Regions from separate parts of the Homo sapiens genome. Here region 2 is linked to region 1. The links come from fine-mapping of genetic effects on gene expression. Tissue or cell type: whole blood. Region 1 holds a variant in brackets; the other region holds the start of a gene. All regions are shown on one strand. Distances are between the middles of the regions.

Evidence for each region. PIP is the estimated chance that this variant, and not a neighbour inherited with it, causes the effect.
Region 2: it holds the start of ECHDC1, and the variant in region 1 is fine-mapped to the expression of ECHDC1 in whole blood (INTERVAL, PIP above 0.99).

Annotation. Positions count from the first base shown.
Region 1 is chr6:127,374,206-127,377,057 of GRCh38, reverse strand. No RefSeq gene overlaps it. Among named protein-coding and RNA genes, the nearest start is that of ECHDC1, 32 kb to the right of the region's middle. The variant GA/A (reference allele first, on the strand shown) is at 1,310.
Region 2 is chr6:127,342,408-127,345,065 of GRCh38, reverse strand. ECHDC1 (ethylmalonyl-CoA decarboxylase 1) reads left to right here and starts at 1,457. Exons shown (of 6, transcript NM_001002030.2): 1 at 1,457-1,730. RefSeq lists enhancers at 1-424, 1,299-2,172.

The DNA of each region.
Region 1 (2,852 bases):
GCAGGCACTGTTGACACACTGTCCAGAACCATACCTTCCGTGCAAGCCAGCAGGTTTTCTGACAGCTAGTTACTGCATTTGCATCAGAGAGCTGCCCTCAGACTTGGCTGGAGAACATGGCAAGCCAGAAGTACCCACAAATTGATGGTCTCCAGGAACAGACCTGAACCAGTGACTCACTTGTATGGGGTCACAACACAGCTGTCATCATGCCCTCAATAGAATCAGCCTTTTACACATGTGTTCCATGGCGTTCCAGAGCTTCACCATGGGATTAGGCTCCATTTGCCCATTGCAGTAGCTTGTTTTGTGACACTGCCTTTGCTACAGGAAAGCCTTCCTGATCCAGACCCCAAGAGAGGGTTCTTGGATATCACGCAAGAAAGAATTCAAGGTGAGTCCATAAAGTAAAGTGAAAACAAGTTTATTAAGAAAGTAAAGGAGGTCGGGCACTGTGGCTCAGGCCTGTAATCCCAGCACTTTGGGAGGCCGAGTTAGGCAGATCACCTGAGATCAGGAGTTCGAGACCAGCCTGGCCAACATGGTGAAACCCTGTCTCTACTAAAAATACAAAAATTAGCCCAAGGGCATCTTAAATTTAAAAAGGCAATCAGCCAGGAATTAAAGAAGGCTAACAGCTGGGTGTGATGAAGGAAAGAGTCAAAGAGAGCACTGCTAAAGCTGCTCTCATCTCAGCTGAATGTTCCCATGCCCAAGGTTGTGCCCTCTAAGGAGCAACATCAAAGGCTTCCCAGTAAAATAGTGCCATCAGAAGCTAAATGAAAAAACAGGCAAATAATAACAAGCACCATGAAATGAGGGACAATTATATCCACAATTGCTACAATATATTATTTAAGTGTCTAGTTTTCAGAAAGAAAAAAAAGAGACATGAAAAGCAACAAAAATGTGTGACACACACACACAGGGCCGGGCCTGGTGGCTCACGCCTGTAATCCCAGGACTTTGGGAGGCTGAGGCAGTCGGATCATGAGGTCAGGAGATCGAGACCATCCTGGCTAACACGGCGAAACCCTGTCTCTACTAAAAATACAAAAAAAAATTAGTCAGGCATGGTGGCGAGTGCCTGTAGTCCCAGTTACTTGGGCTGAGGCAGGAGAATGGCATGAACCTAGGAGGCAGAGCTTGCAGTGAGCCGAGATTGTGCCACTGCACTCCAGCCTGTGCGACAGAGCAAGACTCCATTTCAAAAAAAAAAAAAAAGAAAAGAAATGTATGATGGTAATATCTCATTAAAGAGAGAATATATTAAAAATAAATTATCTAAAAAAAAAAAAAAAAAAAAAAG[GA/A]CCAGGCCAGACACAGTGGCTCATGCCTGTAATCTCAGCACTTTCAGAGGCCCAGGTGGGCAGATCACCTGAGGTCAAGAGTTCGAGACCAGCCAGACCAACACAGAGTAACTCAGTCTCTACTAAAAATATAAAATTAGCCCGGCATGGTGGCGCATGCCTGTAATCCCAGCTGCTTGGGAGGCTGGGGCAGAAGAATTGCTTGAACCTGGGAGGCGGAGTTTGCAGTGAGCCGAGATCACACCATTGTACTCCAGCCTGGGCAACAAGAGCAAAACTCCATCTCAAGAAAAAAAAAAAAAAGACCAAATAGAAATCCTGAAGTTGAAAGGTTGAAAGTACTGACTGGAATCAAAATTTAAAAATTACTATAGGGCTCAACTACAGATTTGAACTGGCAGAAGAAGAAATGAGCAAACCTGAAGCATGAAGACAGGCTAATAGAGAATAATACCCAAAAAGCAGAAAGAAAAAAAGAATAAAGAAAAATAAAAAGAGTCCCAGAGGAATGTGTGACACTAAGAAACTCACCAACATACATATAATAGGATTACCAGAAGAGTAGAAAAAAACTATTCAAAGAAATAATAACTAAAAATTTCCCAAATTTGAGGAAAAACAATATATATATATCCAAGAGGGTTAACAAGCTCCAAGTAGGAAAAGCAGAGCGCTATACATAGAAACATCATAGTTAAAGGGTTGAAAGTCAAAGACAAAAAGAACTTATTTTTATTTATTTATTTATTTATTTATTTTTTGAGATGGAGTCTTGTGCTGTCGCCTGGGCTGGAGTGCAATGGCGCAATCTCGGCTCACTCCAACCTCCACCTCCCGGGTTCAAGGGATTCTCCTGCCTCAGCCTCCCAAGTAGCTGGGATTACAGGTGCCCACCACCACGCCCAGCTAATTTTTTGTATTTTTAGTAGAGACGGGGTTTCACTATGTTGGACAGGCTGGTCTTGAACTCCTGACCTTGTGATCCACCCACCTCATCCTCCCAAAGTGCTGGGATTACAGGCGTGAGCCACTGCGCCTGGCCCAAAAAGAACATCTTAAAAGCGGCACAACGAAGATGAAACAAGGACAATCCCAGACAAACAAAAACTGACAGAATTGTTAGTGATCCTATCTTATAAGAAATACTAATGTAACTGCCCAAAGGGTTCCTCCTGCCTCCTGCACAAAGACAGACCATGGCATTGCAGTAAAGAAAGAGTTTAATTAGACATCAGGCCAGCCACACCACACAGAAGATGGAGTTAGTACTGCAATAATTCTCCCTAAAGCTTCTAAATTAGGGGTTTTGCATAGGCAGTTTGGGTGAAGGGGTGGAGGTCGCTAGGCTTGGTGCTGATTGGTTGGGGTGGAGATGAAATCAAAGGGGGTCAAAGCTGTCCTCTTGTACTGAATAAATTCTGGGTGGGGCCACAGGAGCAGGGTTGGAGGGTCCAGGTAGTGTTAGACGTGAAAAAAAAACTGAAAAGATATCTCAAAAGGCCAATCGGCAATAGTAGTATTATCTGCAGGAATAGTTGGCAA
Region 2 (2,658 bases), 32 kb after region 1:
ACCTGGGGCTGTAGGGACCAGCAGTCAGTGGACCTAAAGCCTATATCCACTGGTGCCAACCTGGAGACTGGGGCTGTAGGGCCCAACCTGGTGTTGGAGCCTGGTGCCTGAAACTATGGGGACCAACATGGGGAATGGAGTGGGCATAGATCTAGGCGCCATGGAGATTAGCCTAGCATTGGGGTGATCTTGGAGTCTCAGTGAAATGGCTCAGTGATCTTGGAGTCTCATTTTATAACAAACTAGAATTAAATACAGTACTTCTAATAATGACTTCTTCCAATTAGTCCAAACTGGGCTCCCACTTATTCCCTATCATACACATCTCCGTATCGTAAAACTATCCTCCCTGTTCGGCGCGTTGGCACATTCTGTTCCTCCGACTAGAATATTCCCTGTACTTATTCAAATCATACCTATGACCACTGCAGAACTCCAGGAACATGACCATCCCATCTAAACCCCTGCGTTCAGAGACTTGACCAAACTCTAGCAAGCTTTAGCAGCATAAGGCCCTGTGCCCAGGGCGACTGCCTCAGAAAGCTTAACTACGTGATGTAACCAGCACACAACTGATGATAGGTCTCTGACATCCCTTTCTTAGAACGTTTACTAAAGGGCTTGCAATTGTAAAGACTTATTTCTTGCCACTCAGAAGTTCTCTCTCAAGGACCAGAGAGTCATTCCTTTGAAATGTAATCGAGAAGGATAAAATCCTCCGTAGGAGGATAGAATCCTGCGGTAACTGTTAAAACGCGCGCACACACAAACACACAGCTGGCCTAATCACATTTACACTAACAACTCTGTAGGTTCACTTTCTCTACTGAGCGCCCGCATATCCCCTTTCTCCTTTTAAAACGTCCCTTTAAAAATGCCCAGATGATCTCTGCACGAATCGAAATAGAGCTCAGCTCTTTCCTGTCAGTAGTTAACTGAATGTTTTCACCGCTTTAACGTCCAGCTGCGCTTATCTTTGACATCGACTACCTAAGGTCTACCTTTAGTCCCACGACTCTGACAAAATGATCTCAATATTGGTGTAAAATCACCTCCCCTTTCAAGGGTCTTCCAAAGCACTTCCTGTCTGCGGCATACAAAATGTATTGGCACGGAATTTTAAGCTTACTGAGCTTTATAAACACGTCACATTCACACATTCAAGACACACACTGGATATTCGGATAAAAACAAACAAACAAAAAACTGGCTAAATACCCATTCCCCTCAATAACTTGGATAAGATACCTAAAAAAGGTCGACCTTCGGTACCTTTCTGTCTTCTCCCCTCTCGCTATTTGCCTACACTGGCTTCCTCACCTCCACTTTTTCTCACGTTTATCTGAGCGAAAACAAGCACGGTTCGGCAGCCTCCTTTCCCAGCCCTACCTTTGTGCTGCAAAAGCGAAAATTCAAAAGCCAAGTACAATAGGAGACCGCCCACCCTGGCTCCCTCGTGACACGAGGGAGCGCGAAGCGGAGGGCGCCTCGCGGCAGGAGCGGGATTTCCGGGGTCACGGGAACCGGCAGGGGAACGGGATAAAGTTCCCGGAGAAAGGAAAGGAGAGCGTGGGATAGTAAAAGAGAAGACGCGGAGAAGAGGAGAGGACCTACAAGAACGGAGGACAGGGGCGCACGATGGTCCCGGGGGGAGCGGAAACAAAGGCACGCAAAACGGAAAAGCGTGTGTAGGGGAGCGGAAAAGGAAGTCACCACCGTGGCCTGCGACGGTAAGTGGTCGTAAGGGTTGGTCTTAGCGCTTCAGTTTAGTGTTGTCAGTGGGAGAATCCTAAAATGTCGCCGTGGAATGGACTGTACCGCTCGCTTCTCCAAACGTGTCCCAGACGGCGAGCCTCCCCGGCTCCGCGGCTTGTCCCTTGCAAGCGCCGCGCAGGCCTGCCCCGCGCTGGACGTGGAGACGCGGTGCCGAGCGCCACGGGCCGGCTGTGCGCCGGCCGGGGAAAGAGGGCGAGGGGAAGAGATGAATCGGTCTTCCCAGAGCGCGCCGCGAGGTCGCGAGATTACACTTTAAAAAGCATGAGGAGGCTTGCTTTCTACATGCTGATTTAATTTCGGAATACATTCGAGGCCCTGTGCTAAGTTAGGTAATGTTCCCTATAATTGTCTTTTATGTATAAGTTGTCTTGCCTAACTAAAACTTTTCTTACTTGTATCGTGCAGCCAACTTTTCAAGAACGAAAGATGAGCAACTCCTTTCTGGTAGAGGTTCTTTCATTGGAGAATTTTTGAGCTACAATAATCCTTTTAACGCTGCGCACACATACAGGGATTACACGTGTAGGGGATTAAAAACACAGTTAAGTTTAGGTTGAAGGTGCTGTTAAGGACTTCAGGCAACATTAAATCAACACTCAGTTCTTTGCTCTGTTCCACATCTGGGCTCCTGTATAGCAGTTGTTGCTCTAGGTGCTAGAGGTATGCAGAGGAACTGGACAAGGGCAAGGAAAACAAAGGGCTCCTTCTTTAGAAGAGCTAGCATTCTCTTGGAACAGACAAGCTTGTGGTGAGAAGTATATTTGTGAAATCTACGAGGGGAGGGAGCAGCGCAGTAATAGAACGGGCGATCCTTTCTTGATTTTTTATTGGGTTCTGGCCTGAAAGGCGACTGTATAATCAGCTGGGATTCCTGCAATGATT